2 separate regions of the Homo sapiens genome follow, and region 1 is linked to region 2. The links come from fine-mapping of genetic effects on gene expression. A gene starts in region 2. The other region holds a variant in brackets. All regions are shown on one strand. Distances are between the middles of the regions. Region 1 overlaps REV3L (REV3 like, DNA directed polymerase zeta catalytic subunit). Region 2 holds the start of REV3L (REV3 like, DNA directed polymerase zeta catalytic subunit).

Evidence for each region. PIP is the estimated chance that this variant, and not a neighbour inherited with it, causes the effect.
Region 1: its variant is fine-mapped to the expression of REV3L in prefrontal cortex (CommonMind, PIP 0.95).

The regions. Positions count from the first base shown.
Region 1 is chr6:111,412,903-111,429,421 of GRCh38, forward strand. REV3L (REV3 like, DNA directed polymerase zeta catalytic subunit) reads right to left here. Exons shown (of 32, transcript NM_001372078.1): 2 at 3,381-3,570. Among named protein-coding and RNA genes, the nearest start is that of REV3L, 62 kb to the right of the region's middle. RefSeq lists a silencer at 14,491-14,691. The variant T/C (reference allele first, on the strand shown) is at 8,144.
Region 2 is chr6:111,472,743-111,489,261 of GRCh38, forward strand. REV3L (REV3 like, DNA directed polymerase zeta catalytic subunit) reads right to left here and starts at 10,476. Exons shown (of 32, transcript NM_001372078.1): 1 at 10,008-10,476. The coding sequence starts at 10,146. It also overlaps TRAF3IP2-AS1. RefSeq lists enhancers at 4,410-5,302, 5,900-6,624, 9,363-9,422, 11,263-11,622, 15,278-15,377 and 1 more and silencers at 9,793-9,872, 9,933-10,002, 10,063-10,362, 10,533-10,762, 10,803-11,192.

The DNA.
Region 1 (16,519 bases), 60 kb before region 2:
TCCCTCAAGTGGAAAGCTCCGCTCTGGACTTTTGCATGGCTTGTTTAATCTTCATTCAGAACTCTGCTTAATTTACCTTCTCAGAAAAGTCTCACCTGACCATCCCTCCCTCTTACTCTTCACCCTTTTCTTAACTTTTTATAATACCACTTCCCGTCTAGTTTGCTGCTGTATACCCTATTTTGTTGCCATGAAGAATTGGTTAAAGAAAGACATATTACATAAATGATATCATTCTCTCTCATTGGCAAATTCAACCTTAACTGTAGCCCTTTCCTGCTATGGTATTTTTCATATATACAAAGGTAGTTGTCTGGAAACATGGGTTATCTTCAGCCAGATGAATGGTTTTGCCAAAAGAATTCCTCATCAGGGAGACTCTTTGGGGGAAAAAAGTAGAATGGAGGAGTATGAAAGCAGATGTTTTCATGTTTAAAAAATTATATCTCGTAATTAGTTTTTTAAGTATATCAATAGGAAGGAAAATGAGTGTGGATAGCGAAAAATCTCACCTAATTAATTTTGATGGATTGAGAATCTCTTTATAGAAGATTCTCTAAAATCATGAGTGAGAAGGAATCCCAGAAATTAGCCCAAGGTCATGATCCTATCTCTTAACTCAGCCTCAGGATAGTGATAGTCTAAAAAGAATAGAGTTAAACCTCATGTAAATGTTAATTTGGTAGCTAGATGCAACTTTATGTAACTTAAGTAGGAAAAATTGAAGGAGTAAAGGAATTAGAGAAGGTAGAATGAATGGGAAGGAAAAAGGGGATCTAGGGAAGAAAATGACCAAAAAATTAGAAGAAAAAAGAAAACTGCAATGAAAAATTAGAGTGAGCAGCTCATCTGTTGCCCCATGTATCCAGATCTGTAACTCAACTACTCTCAAAAATGTGGCAATGTCTTTAACAAATACAAAAATACAGGAAGATAAGTGACTATGTATTTCACTGGGCTGTTTGGAGACTTAACTTTGAAATGAGGATATATATAGGAAAGTTATTAGAAACTATCAAGAATAAACAAAACTAAAAGATAAAGTAGATAATTATCCCTAACATAATTGCTCCTGTTATAGGATGAGTGTAAACTTTCACCTCATTCATTTATCCAACCAAACAGTTATTGAGTCATCTCATACATGCTAGTGCACTAGCATGCAGTTTACATGCTAGTGGAAGAAACACATAAAAATTAAGTAAATAAATAAAAATTAAAATACCTGCAAACTGTATTAAGTGCTAAAGAAAACAAATAATGGGCTGAGATACAGAATAATAAAAACAGTAATAATAATAATGCCCTACTTAAAATACCTTATTTTACGTGGGATAGTCAAAGAAAACTTCTCTGAAGAGGTCAATGATCTGGAGGATTGGGGAAGGGTAGAACACTCAAGGAAAGAAAATTGTACATACAAAGAACTTAGGTGAGAAACAACTTGGATAGCAGAGGAACTGAGAGAAAGTCACTGTTTCTGAATGGAATACAGAAAGCAGAGTTTCAGAGGTAGATGGGGTGAGGTCACATAGGTTATGGCTAGAAGTTTAAATTGTATTCTATTAACAATATGAAGCCACTCAAGAATTTTTAAATGATTTTAAATTTACAGTATAAGAGTACTTCTGCTGCTCTGGAATGAGATAAAAATAGAAGGAAATTCAATTAAAATGATACTATCATGGTCCAGAGGAAAGCCTAGATTAAGGTGGAAGCAGAGATTTAAGGTCTCCACTTGGATTTCATATGGACATAAAACAACTCAAATGTTCCTGTATGAGCTCCAGATCTTTCCTGTCAGTTGACTCTACCTCTACCTTCCGTCTTCCTAGCAGAACACCCTTAAACTTTTGCAGTCAACCTTGATTCCTCTCTCACAATCCTTACCCAAACACAAAGCAAAGCTAATACATTAACTCAACCTTCAGAATAGATCCAGAAGCTGATGATTACTTCCCTGCTACCACCCTAGTTCAAGCCACACTATTTTCTTTTTTGTTTTAATTTTAATTCCTTGGTCTTTTCTACCTTAATATCAAGCCACCATATTTTCTTACCCAGATTAATGTCCTAATTCTCTCCCTGCTCTTATTCTCGTCCCCCTACAATCTATTATTAATACAGTTGCTTAAGTAATCCTTTCCAGTTTAAGCCAGATCTTGGCTGCTCAAAATCATGTAATAACTTACAGTAAAAGTCAAAGTCCTTACATTAGCCTACTGAGTGATTAACAAACTTAAGCATGCATAAGAATCATCAGAAAGGCTTTATTAAAACACAAATTGCTGGGCCCCAAGAATGTAGTTCTACCAAGTTCCCAGGTGTGTCAGTCCCAGTCCTCCAAGAAGTAAATGCCAAATGTGAGAGAAAATGAGAAGGCAGCCAGAAGAAGCCGGCATAGCCACCAGACCTAGATACCAGTCTCATCTCAAGTGGACAGAGGGATGTTTTACAGATCTGCTTTAGTATCTTTGCCATGCTCAGTCATAGGGTAAGAGTAGCCTATGGAAAGCAGCTCATGTGGAGTGACAGACTGGAATTGAGTGTATAGTAGCTGGGGCCATTCACTCATTCTCTGTGTATTTGGAGATCTGAGAGGTATATTCTCATGGCTGTAAAACTAGGTAAAGCTAATGATAGTAGGTGATACTAGGAAACCAAAGTATGGAAACCACACTTTGAGAATCATTGGTCCTCACAGTCTCTACCCTCTCATCTCTCTCTTATCTCATTTAGTCCAACTCTCCTTTACTCTTCCACTCTAGTCACCTGGCTTCCATGCTGTTCCTACTCCCTTACCTCCTTCAGGTCTTTGCTCAGATGTTGTTACTTTGTCAATGACACATTCCCTGATTACTCTAAAATTGTCACTAGTCTACTTCCTTACCCCACACTACTATTCCTTCTTATCCTGCTTGTATAGATTCTTTCCTTCCACACGACTAATTATCATATAGCAAATAAATTAATTTAATGTTGTATTTATTGGTTATTATCTGTTTCCCGTAGTAGAATGTAACTTCCACATGGGCAGGGCTCTTTGTTTTGTCCAGCAGTATATCCCAAACGCCTAGAACAGTGCTTAGCACATAAAAAGTATTTAAGAAATATTTGCTGAATAAATTACTATATGAATTACTAATGAATTTCTATAGTTACAGGAAGCAGAGAAATGGGAAAGGAAACAACAAAAATCACTGTTGACTCTCTACCTTTCATTGCCATAAAAATTCATGTTAAAAAGTTACAGCAAGGAATTCACTACAGTTCCATTAGACTAGAAGTAAAAGAAATAGAGTTTATCAACTGAGTATGTTTTCCTCTAAATAGAATAGCAACATAAACAGAAATTATAAAATATATTATCATATACTTACATTCCTGATACTAATGACACTTTGAACACATGCTGAGCAGTGGAAGATGGATTGCCTAAAGCCACATTAAGTGCTCTGTCGATACTGAATGCCATCTGAGAAAGATAGCTTTCTGGCTGCTGTCCATAACCATCGTATGGCACATAGAGGTAAGGAAAGATGCCATGTAGATGAAGACATGTCTTCTGACCTAAAATGTAACACATTATAAAGTTTAGTTTCCAGACACAGTTTAACAATACAAAACTCAGAATGAAACTCATTTAAATGTTCTAATGGCAACACAGCTTATCTAAGGGAAGAGTTGAAAAAAATTAACCCATAGTTCAAAGTAACCAGTATTAACTACATTTTACAACAGAACATTTGGAAACATTGTGTAAACACAAGCATTGTATAACAGTATGACTTAAACAGTAGTTTTGATGAAAGTATTTTCACTATTTAACCCTCATAATCCAACTAGTCTTGTGTACTTCACTGAATCATCTATAAATACCAGTGTTATGAAGGTTATAAGCACAGTGTTATGAAGGTTACAAAAATTCACAAAAAGTTTACTAAATAAATCAATGAATGCCTGTCTTGGCATTAATGTTTTCAAACAAGAGCCTTCCCTAAAAGAGAGGCAGCTCTGGGAGAAAGGGGAATGTAAAAGCAGTTCCAGTGTGCAGAATTTTGCTATTGCAGTGGGAAGGAGGGTAAAAATGAAATTTTGCCATTAAAAGGAAAAAAAAAAAGACAAAACCAAATCAAAACAAAATCTCTACAGATCAATTATCTATAATGGATTTCAGGGTATCTAAATTTTATATTTGGTGGTATGGAACAAGGGGAGACAAAAGGCCAACATGCACACTTCTCAGAAAACCAATATATCAGTCAAGGTGCAGAAGGGGTAAATGGTGCTGACTTGCCAACAGACAATCCAGCACAGCCATGATAAAGAAAGTAATTTGAGTGAGAACCCACAAAAGAAATGCCACAGAAACGATAATCTGTCCATGACAAGATTAAGTAACAACAATGGCAACAAAAAGCAGATGCACCATTGCTCTCATGAATCTGGCAGGGCTGTATGGAAGTGGTTACTGTCCTCAGAGCATTGTCCCTAGTTCCCCTTGGGTATGTGCCATTTGTCTAATCCAAACAGAGAGGAGAACAGCAGTGATGGAAGAACACATCCATTTTTCTCATGCTGTCACCCGCTCTCACTGTGCTGTTCCTGCCAACACAAGCCTCAGGCTTCTTCCCCACCCCTTATCCCTCCTCACTCTGCTTCACTGGGCCTTTTCTTTTGGTAGGAATGTAAATATTTGTTTGATCACTATTTCCCATTTATGATTTAGAATGATTTATATAAAATATATAGAAAGTAGTTCTACACTGTGTTGATATCTTAATGTTTACATTTCTTATAAAGAATAACATTAGCTTCTCTTATTTTTAAGGTACACTTACGACAGAAAAATAAATCTGGAACAGTTATTACATAAAGCAGAGCAAATTTAGAAAGATCAGTCACATAATGAAACAAGATCTGATTCTCCGAACTGTAATATTCTGATTTGAACTACCAACTGTCGTGCTTTTGAAAAATTACAAATTGTGTTGCTGTTATACAAATTTCAGTTTCCAGTTTGGCTATTTCATTTCTAAATACAACATGGTATTAATTCCTAAATTTCATAGTTTTTCAATTCTTCAAATAGAGAACATTCAAACTATATTAATGAGTCTTAATAGATTTAATCAATTTACTGATGACTTACTTGAATGCTTTTTAAATATCTCATGAATAAATGTTATAACCATTACCCTTCTGGACAAAAACCACAATTTGACTAAGAGTAACTGGTATGCTAAACTACAGGTTGAGGGAGGTGGGAAGACAGTGAATTATTTCCTCTTAAGTTGACAAATGCAAGACCAGTGATTACAGAATTACTAGTGCAATGCCATATTTTACAAGCAATACTGTAAATTCCTAAGGTATTTGTTTTATAGTCAATATATCTCAATAATGGAATTTTGGGTAAATTTTACAAGAAACAATTACAAAATTGGACTGTATTAATAGTTTCTTTATGGTCAGAGTGTTCACAAAGTGTCTTAAAAATAATTTTATATCCACTTTTCACATCTCCTGTGAAGTAGGGACCAGAAGAATTACCTTTCTATTTATAGGCTTCAGAACTACAACAATTTTGGGATGTACAATTTAGGAAAAAGGAAGAAATGATTTACTCAGCAGGTAATAGGGTAAGTGCTTTACCTATGTATTTCTAATTAGGATAATCTTGCAGTATTGATGGAGGTTAACGTTCCCAAAGTCACATAACTATTAAGCAATAGAATCCAGCTCAACAAAACCTAAAACCAATACTCTTTCCATTTAACCATGCTGGTTCAATGTTTTTAAAAAGTCAATGTTGGCTTCCTTAATTCCTCAGTTTTTATTTTTTATTATAATTGCCTGTTTCCTTATCTAACTTTCCCATTTCATGGCAAAAACTCTTAGGGAGGTGTTATTGTGTTCAAATGAACACTATGTCCCCAGAACTCAACAAAAAACACATGGTATGTGCTTAACAAACATTTATTAAATGAATTAAAGAACCCACAACAAAACAGAATAACTGCTTAAGGACAAAGGAATGATGTGAAAGCCTTTGAATATCTGAAGAAACACATCCACGAAAAAAGAGGGACTCTGATACAATTAATGTAACTACCATCAGGGTTAGAGGAGGACATGGGTGTGTGGGGTTGAGAAGGATCCCCAACATATTGCACTTTCCTACCCTGAATGACCTGAAGTGCCATCCAAATCTGTAGTCACTCTATCAACACAGACGTACCTCTCTCTCCAGTGCTCCTGCAGCTAGAGATGGCTCAGTGCCTTACTCATCACCCTTCCTCAAGAACAACCTCCTGAAGAACAACCACAACACAAGGAATTCTTGGCATAGCACTAACAGCTCTAATATAGAATAAGAATGATATAAGAGAAAATGAAAGAAACAGGATAAAATAAAAAACTCAAAAGTTAAATAAGGAAAGAGAAATGTGTAAAAATGAACACGAGAGTCAACTGCTTTTTGGAAATAGTATGTCTTTTATTACCATAAAATTTGTAGTTCTGTAATTTGCTTTATCTTGACAAGATACAGACCACTTCTATTTATTTCCCTCCGCTAGCTCTACCTCACACAAATGTGTGGAGATACAGAGCTGTAAAGTCTTTAGAGATAAACCAGTCTACTACAACTCCCGTTAGTTAGGATTAGGTTAAATTGTGAGAAAATGCCCCCAAATCAGTGGATTTAGCATTAAAATTAGTGGCTTCTCTCCTAAAAGAAGTCCAGAGGTAGGTAGCTGGTACTAGAAACCCAGCTTTTTTCAACATCTAGTTAGTGGTCTAATTAAGAACTTGTGACTTCAGTCCAGGCGCTTTTCCACTATACTTCTAGAAGTTCCACATACAGGATGCTTTCAAGAATGTTTTTATAAAATTAGTGAAAGTTATGGTATTTTGAAACCTTCTACTAAATGATTTTGGATTCTCTTTTTTTTTTTTGAGATGGAGTCTCGCTCTGTCACCCAGGCTGGAGTGCAGTGTTGCGATCTCGGCTTGCTGCAAGCTCCACCTCCCGGGCTCACGCCGTTCTCCTGCCTCAGCCTCCGGAGTAGCTGGGACTACAGGTGCCTGCCACCATGCCCGGCTAATTTTTTGTATTTTTTAGTAGAGACGGGGTTTCACCGTGTTAATCAGGATGGTCTCGATCTCCTGACCTCATGATCCACCTGCCTCGGCCTTCCAAAGTGCTGGGATTACAGGCGTGAGCCACCGCGCCCGGCCATTTTGGATTCTTAAAGGAGTCAGGGTATTAGGTATTTCTAGGTAACATATAGATTTAAGGAAAGAAAATATCCCTACCCCTTCAACTCTATTAACGTAAACTGATACATAAAAATTGTACATATATATGGTATACAACATGAAACTTTGATATGTATACACCATGAAATGATTAAGTCGAGCTAACATATCCATCACTTCACATACTTATTATTTTGTGGTAAGAGCATTTAAAATCTAATCTCTTAGCGATTTTCAAGTATATAATACATTATCAACTACAGTCACCATGCAGTACAACTGATGTCCAGAACTTATTCATCATGTCTAGTTGAAACTTCATACTCTTTAAACAACAACTCCCCTTCCCCTCCTCTGAAGGTTCCCTCTTACTATCATGGCAAACTGAAGTTAGACAACAAGTCCAAGAGAAATAAGATCGTCTGTGGCTGAACAAGCCCATGTACACAGGTTTCAAAAATTTCAGAGTTTGAATTTTCCAATTTGATTGATGTTCCCTAATTCAGAAGCTGCAAAAGTTATTTTAAAAAGCGCCACCAAAACTTGACACCATGGCAAAACTCTGTGGAGCTGGCTACTTCCCATTGTGTGTAAGTACATAACAAAAGGCAGATGCCTCTTCAACAAGGAGTATGTGGGTGCTCTGAATTTCATCTTTCACGGAACCCAGAATTATACTAAACATTAAGTCCTTGGCTGGGCATGGTGGCTCACGCCTGTAATCCCAGCACTTTGGGGGCTGAGGCAGGTAGATCACGAGGTCAGGAGATCAAGACCATCCTGGCCAACATGGTGAAACCCCTCTCCACTAAAAACACAAAAAAATTAGCCAGGTGCCTGTAGTCCCAGACACTCGGGAGGCTGAGGCAGGAGAATGGCG[T/C]GAACCCGGGAGGCGGAGGTTGCAGTGAGCCAAGATCGCGCCAATGCACTCCAGCCTGGGAGACAGAGCGAGACTCCATCTCAAAAAAAACAAAAACAAAACAAAACATTAAGTCCTTTATATCCCAACATTTCTTATTGTCATTTTTCAACATTTTATTCTGCAATTTAGGTGTCTTGATTTGGTCTCTAAATTGCCCATCTAAAATCTTGTTAGCCTATTTGTAGTAAAATTACTTGGGGTATTTTTGTAGATTCAGTTTCGATAAACACAAAGACTAAATGTACCATTCCTCTAATTTGGGGGTCTGAAAACTTTTTCTGGAAGGTGACAGTAAATATTTTAGGCTTTATGGGACATGCTGTATCTGACACAATTACATAACTCTGCTGTTGTAGCCTGGAAGCAGCTGTATGCAATACTTAAGTGAACGGGCATGACCGTGTTACAATAAAACTTCATTTACAAAAACACGCAACATGAGGGATTTGGCCCATGGATAGTAGTTTGCCAATCTCTGCTCTAATTAATTAGACTTCTTTCTCCATCATCATCTGGAATAGAAAAGTTTTTTTTTTTTTAAAGCTGATGGGTAATCAAAATCAAAATAGTGATAGCCTAAGAGTATCTTAGGAGAATAAGAAATACTCATTGTGTAATTTGCATATCCCATCTCCCAAATCTCAAATTCAATCTAAACAAGGTTTTAAACAAACCTCGACAGAGCTATAAAACAGAAAAACTTGGTATGTGAGCAAGAACATTTACGTTTACAAAAATTTTCATATTTTCTTCTTCCTGGAACATCTCAAGTTTTATATCACTATCATTAACTCCATCTGTTTCCTTCCAGTCTTTCTTTGCTTCTGTCTTTCTAAATTTTACTCCATCTTTCTTTTCCCATCTCCACAAAACCACAAAACGAACTAAACAAAACTCAGTCACAGAAAGTGTTAAATTATCTATTCTCATGGAAAAAGAAAAGTTGTAAGGATGTACTCTTAGCCTTGGAAATTAGATTTTCAGAATTTATCTTACAGAAAAACTTAAAAATGTACACGAAGATTCAGATACTAAGATGTGAGGTATGACTAACAATAGTGAAAAAAATGAAGATAATCTAAATTTCCAAAAATAGGGAAATAAGTAAAATTATGTTATATCTGTATAATAGCTCTGTGGCTCTGTAGCAAATCCTGCTTCCTGCCTGATTTTCTAAATAAAGTTTTATAAGAATACACCACAGCCATTTAGAATGGTCTATGGCTGCTTATGCTATAGACAGAGTTGAGCAGTTGCAATAGACACCCTACAACCCTCAAAACCTAAAATATGTGCTTTCTTGTTCTTTATAGAAAAAGTTTGCTAACCTCAGCAACAGAAGATGTTTAAGTGTATTTCCTAGTATAAGAAAATGTTTATGATGTCTTTATAGTCAGATGAAAATCAGTTATAAAATAACATAGTACATGAGACCAGGTGATGAGTGATTCTTTTATATATATATGGGTGATTCTTTTATATATATATACACATATATATATATATACACATATATATATATATACACATATATATATATATACACATATATATATATATACATATATATATATACATATATATATATATACGTATATATATATATATATATATTTCCCCCCACTAAATATACAACTTGTGTAAACAAAAGGGAGGAAGAAAGAATTTACCTACTTTTAAATAACCCAGAAACTTAAAAGGCAAAACAAAGCATAATATATAACAGTTTCCTTTCATTTTCTCCTTTTATTTGTAAATAATACTTTGGAGTTTCAAATTTATTTATGCCATTTTATTTCTTCAAATAAAATATACAGAACTTTATCTAGAATCATTGGCTTTAAATGATTAATCCCAAATTACTAAGAGAAACTATATCGCTGAAATACCAGATGTTTCAAAAGTCTATTTTATTCATACATTTGTCTAATGTGTCTTTGTATATACAGTGCAGGGTATAGTTGGTTCCTTTATTCATAAATGTAGTCATAATTTCTCTACTCAAGTAATTTGTGGAGACCCAATGTTTGGTGCTAAACCATAGGCTGCTTATAACACAGCCACTAACTTCATGACTATAAAGCCACTAACTTTATAGTCTACTTGGAGAAAATGATGAATAAATAGGCAATTACAGTATGGTATGACAGGTGCTCAGAAGCACAAAATCCTATGGCTATATCCACAAGTATCTAACTCAGACTTGTGAGAATCTAGGAAGGCTTACCAGAGGAAGTGACATTTGAGCTGATATCTGAACTATGAATCAGATTTAGCCAAGCAAATGAGGAAGAATGTTTTCAGTATGTACAGAAACCTGACAGCAACAGAAACATGGCATCTGGGAACAGGAAAAGTGTAGGTGGGATGAAACAAGGAGTGCAGTGGAGAGAAAAGAAAAAGAGTATGAGAAGGAGAGAAAGAAAAAGAGTATGAGAGAGAGAAAAACAGTGTGTGTGTGTGTGAGAGAAAGTCTGTGTTTTTGTGTGTGTGCGCACATGCATGTACTAATGACCTGTACAGATTCGCATTTTATAAAGTTCCCTGTGGACACATTGTGGGGACACTAGCAACAGAACTACAGAAAGGAAAATCTGTTTAGGAGGCTGCTGGAGGAATTCAGTCGAGATGTCAGTAGAGGTGGAGAAAAGGTCAAGGATTTAGGGAGTAGAATCAAGAGGCTATGGTAACTGGAATTTGAGAGTAGGATAAGGCAGAAGGAATCAAAGATGACTCTTATTTTTGGCTTAGGCAACTGGACGGATGATAATGTCACTCAAAGAAAACTGTAAAAGAGGGGCGGGTTGACTTCTGTTTTGCATTTATACAATTTTACATGTCTATAGAATTTCTAAATGGATATTTAAATGAAACACATACAGATATGGAGCTTAAGAAAGAGATCTGAGCTAGAGAAGAAGACAGATTTGCCAGTATGAGCAACAATTGGGTAAGATTTCTCAGGGAAAATATCCAATACCCAATACAAGAGAAGGGACCTAGGCAAGAATCCTGAGCCGATATTTAAGAGAGGCACTAAATATTTTGATTTATGTGAAATGTGACAGACAGAGCCCTGAGAGGGCTACCAGGCAAGAAAGGGAAGCTAATAGTGAAAATTTGATAATATAAACATATTAGCCATGGAACCAGTGTTCCAAGGATCCAGTGGAAATATAAGAGATAGGCAAGTAACGAGAGGCTGGATCAGAGATTGGTGGCAGGATGTAGATAAAAGTATATAGGACTGAAAAGAGGCATTTACAAAATTGCTGAGTAAGGACCTTTCAATATCTGTTCCTCCATAAAAGCAACAAGAACACTGGCAAAAACTGTCAAAAGCAACTTTTTCAGAACTCTGGAAATTAAAGGTTTGCAACAATTCAAGGCGTATTTATTCAAGAACACCAGATGAATGCTAAAACAGCAAGCTTTGTGGCATTTTAACTTGTTCTAATCTGATCTCTCCCTCTGCAGCTTCAAAACAGTCTTGAAAATCAAAGCCTTGCATCCATAGCAGCTGTAAAAACCAGCAGCCAGGCAGCCACTGGAGGAGCCGGAACCCATTTGGAGCTCCTCCAAAGCCCTACCCTCAGAAAACTGCCACTATTGGACTTGTCTGGCAGCTTGCTGAACAACACTCCATTCCCAGCACTTGCCTTTATTTGATTTGAAGAAGGGCTCACACTATGTGAAGAGCCCTATATGCGGCAGGGTCTTTGTGGAAAACAATCAACAGCAATTATTTAATTGCTGTAGCTGCCTGGAGAAATTTTACCAGTTGGGTCTAACAAGAGGCTGACCAAAAAATTCAAAAGTACAAACAGGAATGAAATGTCCACCGGGGGCTTGGAAAAGCTTTGATACAGTTAAGGGAATTTAGAAGGCCATAAGCATGTGTAGGGCTATGTACATGCCCAGGAAAGATCTAAGAAGACTAATATTTTGCCTCTGGTTGATCTTGAGGCTCTGCCCCAACATACTCACAGAGCCCCTCAGCAAAAGCTGAGAAAAGAGGCATTTAAAGAAATCTCTGGTCAACCATTAACTGACCACTATGCTAGCTGAGCAGAGATTTCAAATAGAGACTGCCGGGCGCGGTGGCTCATGCCTGTAATCCCAGCGTTTTGGGAGGCCGAGGCGGGCAGATTACGAGGTCAGGAGATCAAGACCATCCTGGCGAACATGGAAACCCCGTCTCTACTAAAAATACAAAAAAAAATTAGCCGGGTGTGGTGGCGGGCACCTGTAGTCCCAGCTCCTCGGGAGGCTGAGGCAGAAGAATGGCACGAACCCGGCAGGCGGAGCTTGCAGTGAGCGGAGATTGCGCCACTGCACTCCAGCCTGGGCGACAGAGTGGGACTCCATCTCAAAAAAGAAAAAAGAATAGAGACTATACAAAATAAGCCCATGAAAATCACTGAAGAAATAAACTGCAGCAACAACAAAAATAAACTGGGTGGGTAGAGAGGAATCTAACTTGAGAACTGCTACATAATTTAAAATGTCTGGTTTTCAACAAAAATAAAATTATAAAACACACAAACAGGCAAATATGGCACCATATATATATATATATGCACACATATATATAAAAGCAGACAACAGAAACTGTTCATGAAGAAGCCAAGGTGTTGGACTTACTGGACAAAGATTTTAAGCCAGCTATTTCAAAAAACTAAAAGAAACATGTCAAGAGAGTTAAAGGAGAGTATGAGACCAACATCTTACCAAATAGAGAATATCAATGAAGAGAGAGAAATTATAAAAAAAGAACCAAATAGAAATTCCAGAATTGAAAAGTTCAATAACTAAAATGAAAAATTTACAAGAGGGGGTATGATACTATGATATAAGAAGAAATATATATTTGGTCTTTGTCCCTCTTCCTGGTACACAGCTCCTAAAACGTTTGGATTCTTTTAAGTGTTAAGTGTTTACATGTGTACCAATGAGATGACTGGTAGCTGGGGGCTCCTGGATAGCCTCAGGTAGGGCAGAAGTGCAGGGAGCCTAGGGACTCCATTTGTGGCTGGTGTCTGAAGTGAGCAGTACTATCGGACAGAACCCTTACCCTGTAGGGTATACATTAGTAGTAGTTAGTGTCAGAATTGAATTCAATTGTAGAACACCCACAGTTGATGTCAGAAAACCGAGAATTTGTTACTGTAAAACTGATGCACAGGATGTCTTTTTCAAATTGGGTGGCCTCTAAGAAGGCTTTCAACTGAGTCTAGCTGAAAATTTGATGGATTTAAATCTTACTTTCTCCTTATAAACTATTTTCTTTCTCCTTATAAACAATGAAGATATGTATAATGTCCTCACATCTCCCCTTTATGGAACGGAACTAGAAGGGAATCAATTAACCCATTTATGCCAGAGGTTGCAATTTTTTGTGTGTGAAAAATCAGACTTTGGTGATGACCCTGAGCAGTAGGATATAAATAACTCCCACAAGCTTAGCAGCCCAATAATGGAACACTAGGCATAAATGGGTTAAGGGCCAACTTCCAAACTGAACAACAGTAGTTTGATGATTAATATGATTCTTTTATGATTAATATGTCAGAAATCTGATGAAATGTTGTATCCAAAGTTCATAAGCAATTTAATCTGCAATTATTGTTATAGAAAGTAAATCAACAATTCCCTTGATTTTCAATAACTATGAAACTATATGGGTACTGCTCAAAGGCACACGCCATGGTACAACTATTTCTAAAAAGCTCAGTCTTAAAAAACAAAGCTTCTAACAGTAGTTTCAAGCACAAATCTCCAAGAAAATGTGCACCTTTCAGACTAAACGTCATAAAAATAATTAGTGTTATTAACCTTAGTGAAAAATAAAATTCTGGCTTGTAAAACAAACACTTTTTAGTTTCAGATAATTTAGCCAGAATGGTCACACACATTAATTTTTGTGGTATTTTAATTGAAAGGTAAATAAACCAAAGTCTCAAAAAAAAATTCTGATTATGACATGAAAATTCATCTCAATTTAAAGCAATATCAAAAGTTAATCAAAACAAACTTACTGTCTGGTCAAATTTGTACATAAATACCTAAATGCTCCTTCAAATGCAAATAAATAAAATATTATTGGTAATTAACATTATATGCAAGTCTAGTAAATTATTCAACCATATTTTATGGTAGCTGAATACTAAAGGACCTTAAGCTTTTACCTGTCTAAAAGAAAGTTGAAAAGACAATGCACAGAATGAAAAAAAAGTTGTGAATCATATATTTCATAAGGGACTTGTATCTAGAACAAACAACTCTTTCAACTCAATAATAAAAAGACAATAAAATTTTAAAATGGACAGAGACTTCTGGTTGTAAAACGGTGGTACAGAAGTAACCTGGCTTCACTCACTGCCACAGGAAACCAAAACCACAAATACAGTGCTGACACGATCATGAGCAATATCCCGAACTCAAATATGAGGAGACAGTTCCCAAGGCCACAAAGAAGTGAAAAAACTCTGAGCAAAAGAAAGCAAATTAGACTTTCATAATCACAGTGCCCCTCCCCTCAATCTGTCCAGCACCAAGCATGCAGAAAACTTTCCCAACTCAGAGTTGCTACACTGGAAAAAGTATAACTGAGGTGGACAACTGGCTTCTCCACCATCTTGGGTTTGTTGGCAAGAGACCTATCCCTGTCCTAATAACTGGGAGCAGTGGAAATACCTAAGGGAGAAATAATCCCTGAAAACCACCAGAAATAAAGAGAAGAGGTCGGAGGTGGGACTACCATCCCTAGTCCTGGAAACTCTGCTATGTAACTCAGCCAAAAGAGATGCCAAGTTGGAGTGGCTGTTCAGCAGCACCACACTGTTAAGAGGTTCATTTCACAGGTTCATTGGACATGAACCTCTACCCAGAGGTTAGGTGCTGAAAAGGAGGCAGCAACCTAGCAGATTTAAGAAAAAAAAAAAAAGAAAGAAAATTAACAGGTAAACTTCAAAGAATCTCTAAGCAAGCATATTCGATAAAAACCAAAACAAGCCAGATAGAGAAGACTAGAATAAATAACTAATCCTTGAATGCAAAGACACAGATGTATATCCACAACAAACAACAGAAAACAGGGAACCATGACCTCAAACAGACAAAGCAAGGAACCAGTGACTGACCCTAAGAAGACAGTGACATGAGCTTTCTGATCAAGAATTCAAAATACCAGGTATAAGGAAATTCAGTAACTTTTACAAGGCAAAGCAGAAAAGTAATTAAGAAATTTATTAGAGAAATTTAGCAAGGAGATCAAAATAATACAAAAAAAACCAAACAGAAATCGAAATTGAGAAATACATTTGGTGAACAGAAAAATTCATTAGATACTCTCAATAGCACAATGGAAACTAAATAACCTACAAGACAACACAGAAAAGTAATACAGAAATTTATTAGAGAAATTTAACAAGAAGAGTGAAATAATACAAAGAAAACAAACAGAAATCAAAACTGAGAAATACATTTGGTGAACTGAAAAATTCATTAAAGTCTCTCAATAGCAGGATATATGAAACAAAAAAAAGTCAGTGAGCTCAAAGACAGGCTATTTGAAAATACATGAGGAGAAAAAAGAAAAAAACCAATGGAAAGGAATGAAGGCTGCCTTTAAGATACAGAAAATTACCTCTAAAGACAAAATCTAAGAAATTTATTGGTATTTAAGAGTGAGGGCTCTTGTTAAGCAAGGGAAAGGGGCAAAAAGCTTATTTCAAGAAATAACAGAAAAAAATCCCAAAAACTTGAGAAAAAGATAAATATCCAGGTACAGGAATAAAGGTAAGACAACACCAAATAGATTTGATGCAAATAAGACTACTCCCAAGTTATATAATAATGAAACACTCAAAGGTCAAGGACAAAGAAAGCAGCAAGAGAAAAGAAGTAAATGATGTATACAAGTGCTCCAACTTGTCTGGCAACAGACATCTTAAGAGAAACTATAAAGGCCAGGAAAGAGTGGAATGCCATCTTCAACGTGCTTTAAAAAAATGCCATCTAAGAATAAAGTATTGAGCAATGCTATCCTTCAAATATAAAAAAGAGGGTTTTTGGTTTGTCTTTTTATTTTTTAAATCTTCTTTTGTAGTGATGGGAATCATGCTATGTTGACCATGCTGGTTTTGAACTCCTGGACTCAAGCAATCCTCCCATCTCTGCCTCCCAAAGTGCTAGGATTATAGGTGTGAGCCATTGTGCCCAGTCAAATACATAGTCTTTCCCAGACAAACTTAAGCTAAGAGAATTCACCACCACCAGAACCACCTTACAAAAAAATGCACATGGGAGTTCTTCCACCAGACAGAAAAAAAC
Region 2 (16,519 bases):
AACCCACAGAGAGCTGGAAGAAACACAAGATCATCTGGAAAACTTAGAAGGAACGACAGAAAACACACACACACACCAAACAAAAACACCAAAAAGGTTAAATAGGCTGTCATTAAGAGGGTCTTACTTTTACTTATAATTTGTTTTGGTCTCAAAATCCACATCATGTTTGGACAGTAGACTGAGTTATTTCTAATTGCCTAAGACACTCATTCCTGCCTTATCTGTATCTACATGGAAATTACAAGTTAACACAATTTCACCCAAAGTTTACTGTTCCTTAACTCCCATTATTTCCTCTTATTATCACTATGATGTTAAAATGGCAGCCAGATACCAGAGTGACATACCTCATACCATGGCCCATTTCTTACTTTATAAGTAAGTTCAAACTATTTCTTTGAAATATCCAGCACCAATGACAACATCCTCTAAAACCTACTTTAACCCAACCTATTTAGACTTGAATCATTTTTCACTTAGATTTTTTTTTTTTTTTAAAGAGACGGGGTCTTGCCATGTTGCCCAGACTGGTCTCAAAATCCTGGGCTCAGGCAATCTTCCTGCCTCTGCTTCCCAAAGTGCTGGGATTATAGGTGCCTGGCCCTAGATTATCTTTAATTGCGTGAATTCTAATCCAATCAAAAGCAAGATGAGAGAAAATGTAATTATAGTACCAGAGGAACTTGAAAGGTCTCATATATTCCCTCCTCCCTTTTTTGGAAATAGCATACATACGATTTTAGTATCAATTTTTATTTATGTTTGCCCTAAACTCCTTTTGCTATAATCTTTTGTTTTCTTAAAGATACAGCCCAAGTCATCATAAAACGAATCCTACTATAATCTATTCTAGATTATAGAATATTAATAATATTATTATATAAGAAGATTCTAAGCACTATTAGATACAGTAGGGTCTCAAAGATTTCTGAACTACATATGTGCAGTTCTTTTAATAATTCCTCTGAGGTTCTGTATTTTTGTCTTTCAATTATCATCAATGCCTTCCTCCAATATTCCCTCATGTTTCGGGGGGAGAGGGGGTCAGTGTGAGGTGATGAGAGCTGAAGAGTCAAGATCCAAGATCCCCAATTTTCAAATCCAGCCTCACACCAACCAACTGTAGGACACTGGACAAATCCCTGAGCCTGCTATGTAGATTTCAGTTTTCTTCATACAAAATGAGTACATTTGACTAGAATGATGCTTCTCAACCCTTTTAACATTGCAAACAAAACTTGTCAGCAAAAAAAAATTTAGCACACTGGACAACAGGAGGGCATTTGGAGGCATCTACACAGTGCCTGGTGAAAAAAAATTATCATATTTTCTAATTACAGAAGAAAAAATGTAAAGTGTTATGGTAGATATTTTTTGACACATGTAATGCTGAAAATTTTAATATGAATTTCAAAACCAAACATTTTCACATCAAGAATATTTCAAAATTAAAATCATGCTTTATTTCTGACAAACATACATGCACTATTAGGCAGTCACCTTGCAGAGCATATCAAACGCACGTGGTGAGCAGCATCCAATACAGGTGAATACAGATAGTCAGGCCTGGAGCTGGGCCACCAGAGACACCCTCCCTGCTTCCTTGTCCTCTCATTGTAAGTGGGTTGCACCTTGTGGTAGGTGGCATGTTCCTTCGGCACCGTGAATACAAACTCCAGTAACAATTCCATGATCCCTTTCCCACAAAAGGCAGCTGTACACTGTGGCTGGCTGCTGAAGTAGATTCCAAGTAGTAAGGCACACCTCATTTAATGCACTTAAAATATCAAAAGGAGCAGTATGCTGCTTTTAACTGTTGGTTGTCACTCACCATGCTATTTGTTCACAGGAACCCCAACGCCTTCCTTCAGCCCCCATTCTACTAGGACTACCCTTCTGTGAGCCATGTAACATCAACTGAAAACTTTGAATTAGAAGATCTCTAACAATAACTAAAGTTAAAAACAGTATTGCAGTAATCATTTGTTTGTAACAACTATTATGGTCTCTTATTTTTTCCTTCTTACCAATTCCTGTAAGCAAAACATAACTTAAAAATATTAACTTTGAATAGTATTACATGCACATGATTTTAAAATACTGAAAAATTACCAAACAGTATACTTTAAAAGTTAGTCCATCTTTGTCCTCTAGGCAACCACTTCTACACACTGGAGCAATTACTGTCATCAGACTCTCCCGTATCCTCCCATGCACATTACATTCTATAGCTGCCTATATATACACACACACACACACACACACACACACACACACATATGGATTTTATTATAATAAAGAATTTTATTCTAATACATAGGCATATATAGCATATAAAAATATATATTTTAACCACACGAATGGCAGCAAACTGCACATGCAGTCATGCCTCTTGCTTTTTTTCCTCATATCTTTGACATAGCACCACAGCAGTACACATAGTATTCTCTCATTATTTTTAAAGGCTGACTAGTATTCTGTTGAATATATACACCATAATTCACCTAACTACTTCCCTACTGATATGTTTAGCATGTTTCCAATCTTTTGCAGTAACAAATAATGCTGCCACAAATATTCTTAGATATTTATTTGACATATATGCAAAATCTTCTAGAGAATAAAATCCTATAATGGAATTACTAGAACGAAATAAATCTGTGTTTTAATTTTTGAAAACCATTTTCAAACTGCTTTCTATAGAGTATGAATACTTTATAATCCCACCAGCAATGTATAAGGCTGACCATTTTCTCTTCTCACCTTTCCCGAGTTATACTATACATAACCTTTGCTCATTTGATAGGTGACAAAGAGTATGTTGTAGCTTGAATTTACATCTTTATTATATTATAAATAAAGTTGTACATTTTTTCATATGAATTCTCTTTGCTAATTTTTCTACTGGATTATTTTCTAGTTCTTTGTATTAAGAGGAACTTAGCCCTTTGTGAAGTATACAAATAAGTTTTACTAGTCTGTTTCTCTTTTAACTTTGTTTGATTTTTTCCCCTGTACAGAATTTTATTTTTATGTCCTAAAATCCAGCAACCCAGTATGCTATTAAAGGACTTCACCAATCCTGGATTACGTAAAAAATAATTACCCTACCTTTTTTGTTTCTTTGTTTCATATTTAAATCTTTAACTCCTCTGGAAGCCAACATTATTTTTCCAGATGACTAACTGGCTATCCCAACACTGTTTATTAAACAATTCTTCTTTTCCCTACTCATAAATGAAGGTGGGATCCATTTTCATATACAAGTTGAATACCCCTTATCTGAAATGCTTGGGACCAGAAGTGTTTCAGATTTTAGAATATTTGCACATACATGAGATATCCTGAGGATGGGACCAAACCTGAATGTAATTTTATATAATTTTAAATAATGTTACACATGAAACAAAGTTGTTTTGATTGTTTTTGAGACAGGGACTTGCTCTGTCACCCAGGCTGGAATGCAGTCATACAATCATGGCTCACTGCAGCCTTCACCTCCTGGGCTCAAGCGATCCTCCTGCCTCAGCCTCCCAAGTAGCTGGAACCACAAACGTGTACCACCCTGCCTGGCTAACTTTTGTATTTTTTTGTAGAGATAGCGTCTTTCCATGTTGCCCAGGCTGGTCTTGAACTCCTGGGCTGAAGCAATCCTCCCACCTTAGCCTCCCAAAGTGTTGGGATTACAGACATGAGCCACTGCATCCAGCCTGAAACGAAGTTTTGACTGCGACCCATCATGAGGTCAGGTGTGGAATTTTCTACTTGTGGCATCATGTTGGTGTTCAAAACATTTCAGATTTTGAAGGATTTCAGATTATGGAGTTTTAGATAAGGGATGCTCAACCTATATTAAGCTCTCATATATATTTAAGTTAATTCTAGTCTTTACTCTGTTTTAGTGCTGTCATGTGCCAAAACCATGTTACTTTTCAAAACATTTTAAAATTAAAACCACTTTACATACAAGTAAGAATAATACAACCAGAAATTACTGGCTTGCTTTAATTTATGAATCATTTTGCAATTTCTAAATGGAATTTATATAATTAAGTTCAATATGATCATCATGCAATCATGCATTTTGGTTGACACATATTTTGGAGACCATTACGAATCTCATGTCTCCCACTACATTTCTGGAACCATATCTAGAAAATCAATTTTTCCTTAATTTTGTACATGGTTTTTTTAAATTATAAAATCAGCACATGTTATCTGTAAAAAATCTGAAAATATAAAACATACCTTCCAGAGATAACCAACTTTTATACTTCGGTGTATTTTTTTCCACACTTTTAATAAGTGACTATTTTGTAAACTAATTTTTTCACATAATATGACAGCACTTTCCCATGTTATTACACATACTTCTACAACATGTTTTAAACACATCCTCCCAAATGAATATACCCAGTTTATGCAACCATTTGCCAATTGTTGAACACTTAGAGTTGTTCTCTGTGATGATTATCATCTATTTATTAATCCTTGCCACAAATGAGTTCCAAGAATTAATAGACGAGTTTCAAGCACTGTGGTAAGCATTAACTCTATAATGGTGAGGAAAAAGAAACACATTATCAGGATTTCTGGAGGTTACAATCTATTTGGAAAAACAGATGTTAATCTCCAACACATATGAAATTACAATGACAGCAAGTGCTATGAGGAGAGTTCATGGTGCTCTGAGAGTCTGTGATAGGGAAGCCTTCCCTGAGGAAAGATAAATCGAAGTTTAGGTGAAAGAAAAGTAAAAACATTCTCAGCAGGGGCAACGGCAGGTACAAAGCCCTCACTGTGGGAAGGAGCATGGCAAGAACAAGGGACTGAGATAAGGCCAACAAGGCTGGAACAAAAAGAGTAAGTCAAGAACATGGCTCAAGTCATGACTAGACAGAAAGGTAAGGGCCAGACTATGCAAGACCTTGTAAGACAGGCAGATGCCACCATATAAGACACAGAGTTCTGTCCATATCCTGAATGCAATGGAAAGCTACTGAAGCATATCAAACAGTAGGGTGATGTAATCAGGTTTGCATTTTTAAAAGATCCCTCTGATTACAGTGTAGGAAACAGATCAGAAGGGGACAAAGTAGATTGGGATAAACCAAGATTAGGAGGCTACTGTAGTAAACCTGACCAAAAATGCTAGTAGTTTAGGGTGGTGATGGATTATGAAAAGAAGTAGACGGATTCAAAAGACAACCAGATTTGCCAAAAGATTTATGCTCATAGATTAAAATCCCTAAAACTAGAATTACTGGGTCAAAAAAGAACACTTCAAGGATTCTAATATACATTGCCAAACTGCCCTGCAAAGAGCAGTTGTCTTCATCTGTCAATTACCTTGTAGCTGTTCCTCTATCTGAAATTTTAAGTTCCTTAAAAATTCCTTTAACATGACTAATCCATATTTCCTTCACGAAGTCTTCCCTGACTCCCCTTTTTGCCTGGATATAGAACATGTCTCCCAATGAATCCTTGCTTTGTCTTATACACATTTCTATAGTCCAGTCATACTGCATTTGACTTACGTTTACATGCCCATCATCTCTACTACATTGTGAGCTTCTGGAGAGTAAAGCTGTTCTTAAGGCACTTAAAGCTAAAACAACTTGCTACTCAGGGCTTCAAATACCTACTTTAAAAAAAGTGACCAATTTGTTTGTGATGAGTCATTACATCTCCATAGCGTTCCTGAAAATCTCTCCAATAATTGTAATCAAATAGGTGTTATATGATCTTAAAATATTTTTAAATAGCTTAGTAAAAAACAGACTATGAACAAAGCAGATTCTATTAGAGAAACTTTTGAACCTGAGTTGTTGATACACGCTAATTTTCAAAATTATTCTTATTGCAAATTTAACTCCAATTTACCAAAAAAAAAAAAAAAGGTTATTCTGGTAGTTTCTTATATTTAATTTTATAAAATATAAACAATGAGAATATATTTATAATTGGATAAGCATCTACATAAACTTATATAGCATTTCAGAATTATCAATTCCTTATGTTGAAAAGCTTGATTTCATGGCTAACAGTATCTAGAACAATCTACCAAAATATTCACTAAGCTAGAGGAAGTGGCAGAGTTCCTTAGAGTAATCTTAAAGACAAGCAGCTCCCTCTATAGTCTGTCTGGCCTACTTTGTTTAATTCCTTGCTTTGTGGACATCCCACACTCTTCTATTTACTCCTACTCTGCATCTCAGCAGGGAAGCTCTTTGAAAGGATAGTTCTGTTTAACCTGGTGCTGAGGAAACTGTGAGAGCTGTCTAAACTCAGCATGAAGTGAGTTACATCAAGCAACTAAGCAAAAGTCGAGATGTGGAAAATGGACAGCTTCCCAAGTCCACCTCAGTCAAATCCTTAAATGAAGCCTGATGATTTCATTTGTAGTGAATCCTCTGAGTGGTCACACCTATATTCAAATCTAAATGAAAAAACATTGTCCTATACTTTATTCACAACCTTTCTTCCCTCCATTAAAACAAGTTACCAAAATGTTGTTCTAAAAGAAAAAATTAACAATTTATTCTACAAATGATACTGCTCAATTTGATTATGTCAAAATAATGTTCAAGACATTTTAAAAACTAGTTAAAAAAATGGAGAGGAAATTTGTTTTTGTTTTTTAAAAAATTCCATAACTCAGATGAAGAAACTTTAAGTGATTCCCTTAGGAATCAATATCCTCAGTTGGCAAGGGATTAAATCAGTCAGGATTTACCATTCAAATCTGAATATCCCCCCCCGCCTTTTTTTTTTTTTTTTTTAAGACAGGCTCTTGCTCTGTTGCCCAGGCTGGAGTGCAGTGGCGTGATCTTGGCTCACTGCAGCCTCAACCTTCTGGGCTGAAGCGATTCTCCTGTCTCAGCTTTCCAAATAGCTAGTACTACAGGTGCACACCACCACGCCCAGCCAATTTTGTTTGTTTGTTTGTTTGTTTTGTACAGACTATGTCGCCCAGGCTGGTCTCCAACTCCTGGGTTCAAGCGATCCTCCTGCCTCTGTCTTCCAAAGTGTTGGGATTACAGGCATGAGCCACAGCACCCAGCCCTGAATATCCCTCTTTTTAAAAATACCTTTTCAAATTTCACCAACTTAAGACATGGGAGCTTTTAAACCCAAAACACTTTATTTCTTAAATTACTCAAGATACGTCCTCAAAACACAGAACAATCAAAAGTCAACTGGACTGTTTTCTAAAGCAGAAAAATGCTTTTCAGGCAATAATAGAAAAACTAAACTAGTAAAAGGGTATTAATCCAATCAGTTCAGAATTTGTAATATAATTTTGAAACGGCCACTTCATTTGAGAAAAAATATCTTTGGTTGCTATTTTTCAGGATCTCATTTGTAAAGCAAAGTCAATTTTAAAACATTTTCTCTCCAAACCAAAGTAAAGCATTAAGGACCTCCCAAAGTAATTCTTATATATGAAAAAAGTATGTTTATGCTATTTTATGTAGCATAGGTTTATCATGTGTTACACATTTTTATTACCTTATTTTACTTGTTAGTAAAGATATAAACTATAAAGATATAATACAAACCATGTTTATATCTTTGCATTATGTTTACATCTTTACTTTCAAATAAATCTGTCTTCATTAAAAATTCTAGCATTCAGAGTTTTACTAAGTCAGACTGGCCTCTCTTTTATATTAATAATTTTCAAGTTTTATTTTATTGGACTAGTTTTCCTTGGGGAGATAATTCAAAAGCAGGTAATTCTGCAGTTTTTGATTATGTTTAATTAATATTAATCTCACTGGGAGTTTCTGACGTGCTAATAAAAATGCTGGCTTGGTTTATGAAAAGTGTAAACTCTAAATGTATGCCAATGACTTCAAATTTTTTCTTGTTGAAACAAACATTTTGTTGGAAACTGTGAACTACATGGCAAATTCAATTTGATAATCCTTAACAATTTAAAATTTGACTTTCTCTGTATCAAGTTTTATGTCTTTCAATGTACATATAAAAAGTGTTACTTTTTAATTCATTTAAAATATAAATTTCAAAGTATGTACCAAAAAAAAAACCCCAATGGGGGTTTTTAGTCTTTGGTTTTTTCGTTTTTGTTTTTTTTTTTTTTTTTAAGGTGCTGGTAATCTATTGTGGGATGTCCATGAAGGATTAAATAGGAAATAGTTAATGTGTCTTTTAAAAAATATTCAGGAAAACAACAGTATATAATATTCTTTATTTTTTAAGGAACATTTCCTCACGTAATAGAATTACATTAGCTTACAGTGAAACTCATTTATTTCCACAAACGAAACTTTCCTATACAACAAAGCTTGACTATCTCTCAGGAAAACATATTTAATGACTTGTGTGGAGGAGAAAAAATTATGTGTGGAAAAGTAACTCAAACCATACAAGCTGTAATACACAGAAATGCCACAGTATATCCTATTAGCATGTCACTTTATGATTCGGAAATTTGGCTGAACAGGGCCATATCAACTTCACTATTTTATCCTTCCTCTGCATCTGAAGTGAGAACAGTGCATTACACTGAAATTCCAATTGGAAACAAAGACAGCACCACTATATTTAAAAGGGCAGAAAACCTATCTTATAGAACACTTCATCGCCTCGATTTCCCAGCCTCCAAAGTTTCAAGTGTTACACTTTCAACACGTTAAAAGCACTCAAATTCCCCATCTTTCAAGGTTCATATCAAAATCATATTCACTAGTTTAAATAGGAATATGCTACCAAATCTCACAACATTGACATTTTAACAAAGAGAATTCACATTAAAAGATAACTGCTTTAAAATGAGTGCTTGTGTTTGGGAAAGCGCTATTATCTTGGTAGTCCACAGAAACTGACTGTAGTAATAAGATGAATGGTGATGAGGGCAAGGAGCATCAAGTGGGAAATGCTATCTAAAATCCCATAGGGCAATTCATAGCTAGAGGGAAGAACAACCTTTCCTAAGATGCATTATTTCCTAGAACTCCATTATTTCATGGAAGCAGTTCAAAGCATGCAAAAAAGCAAAACCATTTTAAAACACCTAGTAAACTGGGCCTCTATCTTTTTTATATTATCATAAGCCCCAGGAGTTTTTGAGAACGTACCTTCTGTCACGGCTGTCTCCCCTTCCCATCCCTTCTTCAACATAGTTGTGTTTAAAAAATATATACCTGTACTTAAAACGCAATCCTACAGCCCAGCCTAGGAGCATTTCAAAATGTCTGTGCTGCTGAGTCTGGCTGTGGTTCCTAATAAATTCACCCCATTAAGTGTGATGTTTTAGGTTGGGCAACATAAACACGCATTTCCTACTTCCATGGATGCACATTTCCTGAAAGCACTGCACCTAAGGATGCTGCCCTGTCCCCCGACGCTCAGGCACTAAACTCTAAGGAGTCACGACCTGCACTCACAGCAGAGCCACACGGTCACCCCAGTGAGAAAGATTATCTGGCCCCAAGCGCCACTCTCTCCGGCCCACTGCATCTCCGGAACTGGCAGAGGAGAGCGAGGGTGAGAAGAGACCATGGGGAGCGACTGACAACAAGGCTGACACTTCCCCGTTTCCAGAAAGCGGCACTTGGGGGACACAAGGGATGTCCCACTAGCGACCGACCTCAGAGCAGGCCCTACGAACCCGTCCACCGATGGACATGGCGCGGCCACCTGGCCCGCCGTCCGGGGCGCCCGCGGCTTTCGCTCTCCCGGCCCGCGCCCTGGAGTGCGGCTCCCGCTCCCGGCCGCCACACGCAGTCTAAACACGCGGCGCTCGCCACCTCCCTGCCCGGGGGTGGGGGCGCCGCGCAGCGCTCGCGCGGACCCACATTTTTGCGGCTCTTGTCACGCACGAGAGAAAAGGCGAGGAGGGCGGAGGGGAGGGAAGACGCGGCAGCGATCCACGGAGACGGCCGGCGCCGGTGGCGTGTGCGCGTGTGCGCGGCGGGGAGGGCGGCCCCGGCGCCCCGCCGACTCCCGCTCCCGCCCCGCGCCCGGCGCCCGCTTACCTGCCGGGGTCGCTCCGAAGACTCGCACCACCGGCACCTTCTTGACAGGGGCCTGGGTGAGGGGGGATTGGCAGGTATCCAGCCCCTGCAGCGGGCTGGCCATGTAGTAGTCTGCAGTCACTATCCTTACTGAAAACATGTTCGCCGCCGCCGCCACTGCCTCCCTTCACTGGCGACCCGGCAGCGGCAGCAGCAGCGGCGGCGGCTCCCTCCGCAGCGGCGGCGGCGCCCCCTCCCCTTCTCGGCACGGCCCCCTCCCCTCACACAGAGGCACCTCGAGGAGCGGCGGGCGGGGCGGTGTAGGCGCTGCTGCCGCCGCCTCCTCAGGAGCACCCGGCAAGGGGCCGCAGGAGAGAAGCCCTCGAGCTTTCGTCGGTGCTGGTGCTGCCGCCACTGCCGCCACCGCCGGGAATCACACGGGCTCCTCGGTCCCAGGCTGCAGCTCTTGTTGCCATGATGATGATGTCACGGACGCAACCACTGGGGGGAGGGGAGAGGGGGGTGTGTGTGGCGAAGGGAGGCTGCGAGTAGTGCGGGGGAGGGGGCTCGGCGGGAAAAGGAGCGAGAGGGCGGGCGCCCGGGCGGGACACGGAGGGCGGGGGCCGAGAAGGGGCTTTCTCCCCCTCCCCGGGCACGCGGCGAGGGAGGCGGCCGGCGGCCGGCAGCGCCCGCGCGGGATCGATGACTCGGCTGGCGGGCACGGTCACCTGGGTGAGGGGCAGCGGAAGGGGCGGCGGAGCACCGATCTCATGGATGGGCTCCGAGGGGCTTGCGGGAGGGGGGCGCCAGTGTTCGGGGCCGTTTTGGCGGCTATGCAGGATTGGCAGGAGCTGCGATGCTCACACTTGCCTCGCCGACCGCCATTTCACATCCAGCAGAGGAGGCGGGGGCAGCCGCTGAGACGGTTTTTCACAAGGTAAGAAAATCCGCCCGCGTGAGGAGGGAGGCGAGGCGCAGATCTCGTGCCGCTGCGGCCTCGCGGGAGGGAAGGGCGGGCGGGCGGCGGAACGGGCGGGGCCGGGTGCGGACGCAGCCGGCCCTTCTCAGGTAACGCCGCGGCTCCGCGCGTGGCCCGGGGGCGGTGCGAAGGGTGGGGGCGCGCGGGCGCGGGCTTCGGCCTATAAAAGGGCCGCCCTGGCGTTCCCCCTTCCCGAACGTGCCGCGCGAGCCGCGGTGCCCCCTCCTCTTTGCTGCTGCAGTGTCTGCGCCGGGCCATTTAATGAGATTTATTCACGCACGGCTCTTCTCAGCTTTGCGAGGGGTTGGCAGATCCAGTGCACAGGGATTTCCCACTACCGTGTTTTTCTCCCGCCCCCTTCCTTCCCTCTCGTCCTAATACATCCTTCGTTGGTTTCCTCGGCCCCGCAGGCTGCGTCCCGGGCACGCGCAAGTACATGTAAGGACTTGTCAGCTGCCGGTGACCTCCCTCCTCCCTCGTCGCTCCTCCCCCAGCGGAATGTAGGATTAACAGTCTTTCCGAGAAAATTTTGGCCAAAGAAAAAGGCCTGTGAAAGTCACCGCGTTAGACGTGGCCTCCTCGTGTTTTTCACTAACACGTTATGGAAGGTTTTACTACCCGAAGGCATAAAAGCACCACCGTGGGGAAGGGCCGTTTTGAATAAACAACTTTATTCAAAAATCGAGAGGGGGTGAAGCGATGCAGTTAGGGAATTTTTGTTTTAAAGAGTAGTAACATGCAGCTGGCTTGGCTATTAAATTGGAAACAAGGGGTTCCTCTCTGACTTGGCCACTGATATTGGGCGTGACCTTGGACAAATAATTTTGTTTCTTTGGGCTCAGTTTCTACATATGTAAAACGGGAAGGTTTCTCTTAAAAACTAATCCTGAAGGGTTTCTTCTCAACAAAAAGATGCAAGCTGTAGGAGGCAGAAAGCGTGGGTTCAAGTTCGAAATTTGCCCCTGAATTAGGACCCTTGACACATTTCTAACCCATCCAAGTAGAGATCGTTCTTTTACATTTGTGTGTTATACAGGTGCATTTTAGTGGTTACCAGGTTGCCACGTATTTGAAGTGGTGTGAGAGCTACTCGTTTGGAACCGTTGTGGATTTTCAAATAGGAAAATCAAAAGGCCCAAAGAGACAGCTCACTGGTAAGAAGCTGTCTATAAATTCCCTAACATATAAATGCTATAATAAGAACTTACGCTCCGAGGGATTTGAGACTGATTACTACAGTAAATTAGCTTGTAGTTTTTAACCTCAGAGCATGATTATAAACATACGTGGCAAGATTTCTACTAATATGCTGGAAATTAGCTAATATTTTTAAGAGGCAAAATCTCTTGATCTGAAATTTTAGAAGGCTATAGAAGTGATTTTAAAATATGACTACCATGCTAAAATGTATTTTTTATAAAATAAATATTTTGTACACGCCGAATGTCAGATACACAATATCAGTGATTCTCAGTGTTCCATGACACCTAGAATTCTTTAAGTGTTGATATTTTGGCTCTTACTGAATTATATTTTGGGGGATGGGGCCTGGGAATCTGTATTGTTAGCAACACTACTTGCCACCCCGTGATTCTTAAGCAAAATAAAATTGAGAATCCTTGTACTATATTATAATCAGTGTATCCATAACTTTTAAATTATAATATTCCTAACTAGAAAATGGTAAAAGCATCAAATTAACAGATTTGCGATTTCTAGAAGAGGGTTTCTTTCCCCTTACCTCTTGAATCAACATTATTTACTTTAAGAAAAGGCAGTTGCAACCACAAGTCAAATCCTTCTAGAACTCCAAGAATGTTCACTCTTGAAGAAAAACATTTGCAGCATGAAATTAGGAATGTTGTGTTCATTGCATGTAATTTAGTTTTAAGTTGATGCTCAAATTGAAAACCTGACAATAGCCCCCTAATTAACCACTATCAAATGTGTTTTATATGTATATTCTTCCTGAAGTAAGAAAAAGTTCTGGAATTTTGAGTCAGAGAATGTGAATATTAAACCATCATTTAGCTAAGTGCTCACTTATTTTTTGGAATTTATTTCCTCATCTGTGAAATGGATAGTAATTCCTGTTTTAACTTCTCAGGGATGTTATAAGGCTCAAATGAGATAATGTATGTGAAAATATAGTAAAATGTTCATATCCAGAAGTCTGATTCATTGAGAAACAGTAAAATCACTTGGAATTGACTTATCTACATACAGTATGAGAAATGCAAAAATTGAACTCTATACTTAATATCCTTAATGCTTTTTTTTTTTTTTTTTTTGAGACAGAGTCTCACTCTGTCACCCAGGCTGGAGTCCAGTGGCACAATCTTGGCTCACTGCAACCTCCACCTCCCGGGTTCAAGTAATTCTCCTGCCTCAGCCTCCCGAGGAGCTGGGACTACAGGCATGTGCCACCATGCCTGGATAATTTTTGTATTATTAGTAGAGATGGGGTTTCACCATGTTGGCCAGGCTGGTCTCGAACTCCTAACCTCACGATCTGCCTACTTTGGCCTCCCAAAGTGCTGGGATTGCAGGTGTGAGCCACCACACCTGACTGTGCTTTCTTTTTTTTTTTAGGTGGCTATTTCTTGCCAGGAGATTTGAGATATGGTGAGAAACAAAACAGACATGGTCCCTTCCCTTATAAGGTTTATAGTCTAGCATCCTAAAAATGTATTTTAATCATATCAATTAACATTTAATCATCTCTTCTAGTTCACTGACATGTACTTAGCATGTCTGCCTTTAGTAAAAGCCTACCAAGTCTCCTTTACCAATACTGTTCAACATCTGTTAACATCTGCCTGTTAGCAGTTTATAATCTAGAACAGACAGTAGTAGCTACCATACTTTTGTGGCAGATACTATAAGATGGCTTATTCAGTATTCATCCAACCCTCTTCTTGCTTACTTTTCTGTACTTTAAAAGCTGGAAAACAAACTACAGTTCTCAGACTCCTTTGCAGCTAGATTGCTGGTGTGAGATCAATGGTGTGATCAGTAAATGTTTAACAATGGCTAGAGAAGAGGGAAGGCCCTAATTTGTAGCATTGGCCAATTCGGTTTGCTTTCTTTTTGAGGAACAGGGTCTCACGATGTTGCCCAGGCTGGTCTTGAACTGCTAGGCTCCTCCCACCTCAACCTGCCAACTAGTTGGGACTACATGGTACAAATGTGTCCTCTACCAGAGTGACTTCAGTAAATGTGGAGTTAGTTGGAAAGGATGCTGACAATCAGAAGTTGGCTTCAGTATATGACCTAGTTTCCAGCAATCAGATGTACCCATTCAGGACATGGATGTGAGAGCGAGCAACATGATGCTTCAACTGCACTCAGGGAGATAAGTATCTTCTGACAAATACCATGAAGGAGGTATCTGGTTCCTCTGGGTAGGTAGGGAGGAGTTGTGGCATCTGTTCTAGAGTCATAGGTGCTGACTGGCAGGCATTGCTGGGATGGGTTTCCACTAGAATAGCTTTGTGATGTGGGATGGGTGTTCTTTGTGGTTTGGTTTTTCTTGGATGTTGTTTCTAGCTTGGTTTATCCAAGTCTGGTTCTCTGGCCCTCTGAGAGATCTGTGAACTAAATAGTATCTTTTAATCCCTTTTTGCTTCAACCAGCCCAGTCACAGCCAGCTACATAATTTGTGGAGCCCAGAGCAAAATGAAAACGTAAGGCCTCTTGTTCCAACACAGGGGAAAATGTGCTATTATCTGTATTAAAATATAAAGCTTTTTCTTTGTTCTGTCGTCGCTCTCTCCACTTGTCATAGTGTTTTTAAATTTGCTTTTTAATGTCATTCTATGAGAAGAAAAATTAAATTTTTTAATTCTTAGGATGAATTTTACCATTCATCTTTATATTGTGTAATGCCGTTTTAAAATGCAAATATAAGAGCATTTCAATTGTATGTGGAATCACCAAAATTATACAATTCATAGCTTGTAAATGCATATGTATTTTGTGCTATCAGAGCAGTGTAAACTCTGCACAAAACAAAACTATTTTTGTTTTCCTTCTTGATATGCACACATTCTACCAACATTCTCCATCTTCTGCTTACTGATGAGTAAGGAAGGATGAAAGGAAAGGGAGTGCTGAGTTGCCCTACTTTCCCTTTCATTCTTTGTCATCATTTTTTGTGTAAATGGTTGGCTAATAGTGGTAAGTAACACATGAGTAAGGAAGGATGTGATGTAATCACTTGTGTTTCTTAAAGATGCTGTTGCCTTCTTTCTGCACCTGAAGCAAGTTCGGATTTGAATGAAAAGTGTAGCCTCTTGGAACTGTCTATGCCTCCACTAACTCAGTCATAGATGTTACATGCTTGTTTTGTATTAACTTTGTTACTCTCTTGAGTTCCTGCACCTCATAGGTCCACCAGAATCCTTTGTCATGAGGCATCATGGAGACCATATGCAAATAGAACGGCAAGGAAGAAAGGATACATACCTCTGCTTGCATATTATGCTCTGCTATACCACTGGACTTACAAAACAGATAGTCAAACATAAAAGTATTACAATTTTCAAGACAGTGACTACAGAGCATTAAACCAAGCACTGGGCCCTGTGTGACTATACTTGTCGCATGTTCATGAAGTTGATGGCTCTGAGCGCTTGGGTTTCTCAAATGGGGCTTCTGGCATTTTTGGTGAAACAGTTTTTCATTGTGCAGGACATTTAACATCCCTGGCCCCCATGCACTACATGCCACTGTAACAATAAAAAATTCCCCATGTATTTCTAAATGTCCCCAAAGAGGAGTTGCTGCTCTCCACTAAACTCCTAGAGTGACCTCCACTGTGTACAGCTATGAACCATGAGCACTACAGAGTTGAGTTAAAAAGGATTTCAAATTCTCATATCCCGGAAAGCAGAATTATGATGACTTTTTTCGTATTGTCAAATAAATAATACCACCTACATTGATGATGAAACAAATATTTGAGATAACAATTTAAAGGTGGTTAGTGGGTTCTATGTGTCACATGTAAATGGTAGTTGACTCCAGATAGATGGCAATTTCTGATAGTTTAAAAAAAAAAAGAAAAGAGCAGAGCACCACAGAAAAGCAAAGAGAACCATCTTACCTTCATTATCTTCATCAGGTAGCCCCCAGGAAAAACTAAGAAAGTTGTCATAATAAGATATGCTACTCTTATTACATTGGATTTGGAATTTAGTTTTATCATATCTATTTTTTTTTAAGGTATAGTTCTTCATTTAAGAATATTAACTGTCAGGGCCAGGCACAGTGGCTCAACTCTGTAATCACAGCACTTTGGGAGACCAATGCGGGAGGATTGCCTGAGCCCAGGAGTTCGAGACCAGGCTGGGCAACGTGGCAAAAATCCATCTCTACCAGAAATACAAAAATTAGCTGGGTGCGATGGTGCATGCCTGTAGTCCCAGCTACTTGGGGGCTGAGGTGGAAGGATAGCTTGAGCTTGGGGAGGTCAAGGCTGCAGTGAGCCTTGAGCCTCATGAGCATAGGATTCTGGTGGACCTATGAGGTGCGAGAACTCAAAAGAGTAATA